Linked DNA regions of Homo sapiens: region 2 is linked to region 1. The links come from fine-mapping of genetic effects on gene expression. A gene starts in region 1. The other region holds a variant in brackets. All regions are shown on one strand. Distances are from middle to middle. Region 1 holds the start of GNB1L (G protein subunit beta 1 like). Region 2 overlaps GNB1L (G protein subunit beta 1 like).

What was found. PIP is the estimated chance that this variant, and not a neighbour inherited with it, causes the effect.
Region 2: its variant is fine-mapped to the expression of GNB1L in whole blood (TOPMed, PIP above 0.99).

The regions. Positions count from the first base shown.
Region 1 is chr22:19,853,590-19,856,483 of GRCh38, forward strand. GNB1L (G protein subunit beta 1 like) reads right to left here and starts at 1,285. Exons shown (of 8, transcript NM_053004.3): 1 at 1,231-1,285; 2 at 854-950. It overlaps RTL10 (retrotransposon Gag like 10), which reads right to left and starts at 1,285. Exons shown (of 3, transcript NM_024627.6): 1 at 1,071-1,285; 2 at 854-950. LOC124905080 (a long non-coding RNA gene) reads left to right here and starts at 1,383. Exons shown (of 2, transcript XR_007068005.1): 1 at 1,383-2,123. RefSeq lists enhancers at 1-393, 1,816-2,295.
Region 2 is chr22:19,787,391-19,790,284 of GRCh38, forward strand. It overlaps GNB1L (G protein subunit beta 1 like), which reads right to left. Exons shown (of 8, transcript NM_053004.3): 8 at 1-1,570. The coding sequence ends at 1,319. Among named protein-coding and RNA genes, the nearest start is that of TBX1, 28 kb to the left of the region's middle. The variant G/A (reference allele first, on the strand shown) is at 1,452.

The sequences.
Region 1 (2,894 bases):
CATCCCCCCTCAGGGTGAGTTCCTCCAGGTACCTCCCAGGGTGGCCTGCAGCACTAGAACCTGCCAGGGCCACTGGCCCTACCTCCACCACCCAAACACTCTGGAATCCCTCAGGTCTGACCCCCCTCTGGGGGGGGGGTCTTCACCTGAAAGCCCAGCCCATGACCCTGGCTTCCCACCTTACTGCAGGATTATACTAAGGCCTGGACGTGAGTCGAGTCCAGTCCAGTCCCTCACTGAGCTCTAAAAAAGCAGTGACCCCGATCCAGGGCCCAGCTCCCACCACCAGCCAAGGTTAGGTATCCAGGTTGCCCACAATGACCACACCCCATGCCCGGGAGCCACAGTGTGCTACCCAGATCTCTGCCTTCCCTTCTTCCCAGTCCCCTACCCTGCCCACTCACCTGCGCACCTGTGTCCCCTGCAGTCTGGGAGAAGGCTTCCCTGCACCAGCCAGCCAGGCCTGCTTTGGGCCTGAGCCTTCCTAACCCTGGGCCGCACTCTCACCATTTTGAGAACCTTAGCCCTCCCACGCCTATCAGTCTGTTGGTCCCCCTACTTTTCTCCCCACACTGCCTGGCATAGAAGACTTTCGGCCCTTCTAGACTGGACAGCACTATCCTAAAGGGGCAGGTACCACGGCGCATGTGTGTTTGCCCCCACAAGGCCAAAGGCAGCACCTGGAACGCTGGAGCCGTTCTCTGCTCTGGGGAGACCCAGGAGCCCCAAGAACAAAACCTGCCCAAAGCCTTAAAGCAAGCTGAGTGCAGACGACTGCACCGCCCGCCCCCCAGCAACCGCCATGCAGGAAATACGAGCTCACAAGGCCCACGGCAACAAGAAGCCCACCCACCTGAGGCTACGCGAATCGCCCGCGAAGAGGGTCCTGGGATCCGTAGCCACAGACCGTGGGACGGGCCTCCCTCTGAGGGCGAGAGTCCAGGCGCCACCTAGAAAGTGGAGAACGAGATCGGCCGCCGTGAGGCCAGGCAAGGAGCGGGCGCGGCTTCCCGAGACTGCGAGAACGGCCCAAATGTCTCCAGGTGCCCCCACAAACCCCCGGCGCGGACCGAGAAACTGAGGCCCGCAGACCGAAGGCACTGCGACCCAGGCTGGGGCTCCGAGTGCCCCTCTGCGGATCAGAAGTCGGGAAAAGACGCAGGGGCGCAGCTCCAGGCCCGCGTGCACGGAGTTCAAGCCGGCCGCCCGGGCTCCCGCCTCCACACTGACCCTCTTGCCGGAGTCGGGAACGCCTGCTCCTAGGAGCGCCGCGCAGCGTCCAGAGACCGATTACATCGCGCAGCCACGCCCCCAGCGTGCGCGCGGCCGCCGTGTACGACCCGGCGCATGCTCCCGGCACGCTCCACGCGCTCCTCCCATCCAGGCCGCGCCTGCGCTGTATGCCGTGTGGCCGCTACCTCGCAGGCTCTCCCGGTCCCTGCTGGCGCGGCAGTGCCGCGCGGTGGGTGATGGGAGAGCGCGCCCATTCCCACGCCGCGCCAAGTGCCACGGGATCAGGTGGGGCCGCGTGTACAGGCGCGAGACGGTCGGGCCAAAGCTGCCCCTCATGATCCCCAGCGGACGGTGCCCGGCGGTCCCTCAGATCCGGGAAATCTGCACCCGGCTGTGGCGTAGACCGAGGGGCCGATGCTGCTTCAGCCCGCCGTTACTGCCCTGGCGTCAGCCAGACACTGGGGTGCTGCTGGGCGTCGAGAGGGCTGCTGCGGGGCCGGGCTAAGCCTGGGGGGCTGCAGGTGTCGGGGTGGATGTGGGCATAGCGGGGCTGCTGGGCCTCGTGAGCGCCCTGGAACGGCGTGCCCGCGGAGTGCCTCTCATCACTCATTGCCAGTGCGGGGAACCTTGTTAGGGCCCGGTTCGACGTAGCTGCAGGCTGGGCGCCAGAGGCAGGGGGCAGGCAGTCCGAGAGGACCCTCTACCTGCATACCTGGGGGCTGCAGGCAGGGCCTCTGGGCCTCCTTGTTGTGGATATAATTGTGTGCTTCCCGACTCAGGCCGAGGCTGGACCCGGAGACGACAGCGAGGGCAGGCTACCAAGCCCTCCCCACAGGGCCGTGCCCAGCCCAAGCCTGCCGAGTCAGCACCCAGATCCTGGGACAAGATAGGTGAGGATGAAGTGGTGGTGCTCTTCTCACTTGCACAAGCCGTCCCACGCCACCTCTCCTCGGCTTCACGGTGCCTAGAGAAGAGGTGGGAGAGGGTGCAGGCGCCCCAGCTCAGGATCTGATGCCTGTGGGCCAAGGACCTGGATGCAAGCCAGGAGTCCTTGGGGCCACGGGCAGGCAGCCGGATTCACCGGAAAGTGACGCTTCTCAAGGGGAACACACACGTAACACACCAGCTCCCTTTCTGCCCTGGTCCAGTGACTCCTTTCATGAAAGCTCTCTGAAATGTTATCTGCATTTACACCCAAACTCACTCACTTTGATCCCTGAAACGCGAATCAAAGGTCACATTGTACCTTCCCTGGGTCTGTGGGGCTTTCAGCAGCCTGGGCCAAAAATAATAAAAGTGGCACCGAGCCAGGAAACGCCTCCTTGAAGTGGGAATGAAATTTGGATTTTTTTCGGTTGTATCTTTCCTAATTGACCTGATAATTTAAACTTCCTCCCTCAAGGGAAAGGTGGGGGTTCCCACAAATTCAGCTTACCTCAGCCTCAAGGCAGCTCAGTCTACAGCTCAGCGCCCATCAGCAGAGTGGGCAGTGGGCCTGTGGAAGAAATGAATCCAACTGAGCCAGAAAAGGCCTTTTTTGGTCCAAATTTTTTTTTTCTTTCAGGCCCTCTCCTGTGTATAACTGTCATGCACCGCATAACAACGTTTTGGTCAACTAGGGACCACATATGTAACTGGTCATCCAGTAAGCTATAGTTATT
Region 2 (2,894 bases), 66 kb before region 1:
TGTTCCGGGAACTCCCCTGATCCACCCCTGCTCCGGCCACCTGGATCCCACACCCTTCCGATCCGTCCCACACATGTTCAGATTTCTGCCTGGAAACCTGGAAATGCCATGTGGTCCTGCAGGAGGCTGGTGCCACTCTCAGGGTCACCCTCTGTATCTCATCCTGGGGGTCTGCTGGACTCGAGTCTAGTTCTAGGACTAGAAGCCCAGGTGGGGGTCCCAAGGAGCATCGGCAGGGCCTTGCAGGGCAACTGCCTCAAGGGAGGCCACCCCGGGCCTTCAGCTAGAGGGGCTCTTCCGGCAATCCGGGCAGACACAGGCGTGTGTGGTCCCAGCTTCTCTGGATCTGCCCATGGGCCCCACTCCAATATTCAGGGTCATGGTTCTTTCCCAATCAACACCCGCTTTTAGGAGGAGACGACCGGCCAGGCTGGGCCCGGCTGCATGCAGTGTGAGGCTCTGGCTGCTAAGTCCTGCTCTTGCTGTGTTGTGCCCTGGGGGCCACCCTGTGTGCAGCCGCAGCTGTGACTGTGGCCTTGGCCACTGTGAGGCGGTGCTTGTCACACTCCCTTGCTGCTCTCGTGCCTTCTGCCCAGCACTCACCTGGAGGTGCACCCTGTGCGCCTTCCCCACTGCACCCTCTGCGGGCAGGCGTGCCCTCCCGGATCCCACATCTGGCCTGGCCCTGTGCGCTGCAAGCCCCCCTTGCCGTCCCTCACAGGCACCTTTCTCTGCTTCACTCTTTAGGGAGTTCAGTTACTTCCTGATCCTGATCCTGGCCTCAACCTGTGTGTTGGGAGCTCCTGGCCTCCTCGGGGTGAGGGGTCATGTGGACATCGACGCAGCTATGGTTGGGGCCTATCATCTCCTGAGGCCTGGCCCAGGAAACCCACACTCGGGGTGGCCCATTCAACAGCAGGTGTGAGGGTGGGGCTGAGCATCCTGCCTGGTGGGGGTCTGAGGGCACTGATGCTAAGTGGGGGACCAGGGCCTCCTCAGGGAGCTCCCACCTCAAGCCTGCAACTTGGCAATGGAAATTTATTATAAAATACCCTCAGCTGGCAACACAGCAGGCCCAAGCCAACGTCTCCTGCAGGCCTCGGACGGCCAGGGCTCTGGCTGGCCCCCAGAGTCACCGTCCTGTGATGAGGCACTCCACAAAAGGAAATACCAACCTCATGAAGACAGCGGGGACTCCATGGTCCTTGGGCCATGACTTGCTGGTCCTCAGAGGCCCTTGAGGTTTCAGGCCAAGGCTGGGGCCTGATGCCCACCTCCCTGCCCGCCCTCCTCGTCTCCCGGGAAGGGAGTGGGTGAGTCATGCGCGTGGGTAGAGTGACCAGAGGCTGATCCGCTGATCCTTGGAGCCCGCGGCCAGCAAGCCATCGGCGGTGAAGGCCACGCACTGGACAGCGGCGCTGTGGAAGGCCAGCACGGCCAGTGGCTGCATC[G/A]TCCGCCAGTGGAACACGCGGATGCGGTGGTCCCAGCCTGCGGTGGCCAGGATCTTGCGATCTGGCCGGATCGTGACCTCGGCGATCCCGGGATTGGTGAGTTCATGAGTCCCACGCACCTGTGAGAGTTGGGAGAGGTGTTAGGCCACTCCTTAAGCCCACAAGGCAGTGCTGCCCCTGGTGCCCCACCTGCAGCTGGAACCAGGAGAGACGCAGGCCCACAGGCCCGGGATGTGAGGGCCACACGCTCCTACCCAGCTGACCTCCCACTCTTCCTAAGGCCACGATGGGGGACTCCAGCCCTCCCCTCAGAGTGGTCTTCGGCCCTGCCCTGCTGCTCCTCGCACCAGCTCTGACCGACTCCTTCCCCAGTCAGAGAGCAGCAGAGACAGGGAGGTCCCAGCTGCAGGAGAGGGGCTGGGTCCCGGGACCCCTCACCCCAGGGAAGCCACTGCACCCTAGTGCCTAGCGAGAGGCCACGTCCCGGGCTTGATGGCAGCAGAATGCTGGCACTCCTCCCAGAAGAACCTCACAACCACCCCAAAGCTGACGAGGGTGAGAAATACAAACTCCATTTTCAGCAAAACCATGAGGTATGTGAACCCCCAAGCTCGACAGGGCTGGGAGCGCTGCCAAGAGCAAGACCCAGTGGGGGGTTGGCAGGATGAGGGGGGGACAAGGGGGAGACGCCCTGGAGGCGGCAGGAGCCACACAGTGTACCTTGCCTGGTGGGGGCAACGTCCCCGGCTGGGTTCTGAGAGGGGGTAGGGCACTGCACGAGACCCGGAGCCACACAGACAGGTCCTACGTGCACGGGGCCGTCGGGGTGCTGGCCTCTTCCTGGGCCGAGCGTTGGGGCCAGGGGGTGGTGGCATGTGCCTGTAATCCCAACTACTCGGGAGGAGGATCACCTGAGCCCAGTGGATGGAGGCTGCAGTGAGCTGAGATCACTGCCACCGCACTCCTGCCTGGGCGACAGAGTGAGACCCTGTCTCAAAAAAAAAAAAAAAAAAAGATACGCTCTAATAAAATTATTAGACTTCATAGCTAAAAAACCTTTGGTGGCCAGACAAAAAGACCATGTTGATGAGGGTGCTGTTTAGGCCGTCCTCAGAATGCTCCACAGCCACAGGGTGCCAAGGGATGACGGGGTGATGCCTGCAAGGCTGAGGAGGAAGGCGAGGTCCAAGTATTTTATATCCAGCCAAACTGTCGCTCAATTATAAAAACAACAGACCAACATTTCTGAACATGTAAGAACTCAGAGAATCCTGCACCCATAAGCTGTTCTTGAAAGACTAGAAGATTAACTCCAGTCTCGTAAGAGATAACTGGAGAACTGCAGCAAATGGTCTGGCAGGGAGCACTGGACCCACTTGCCTATAGGATCAGCTCTAAGACAATATGGGGATTACGGCTATGGAACCGGTTATTATAACTCAC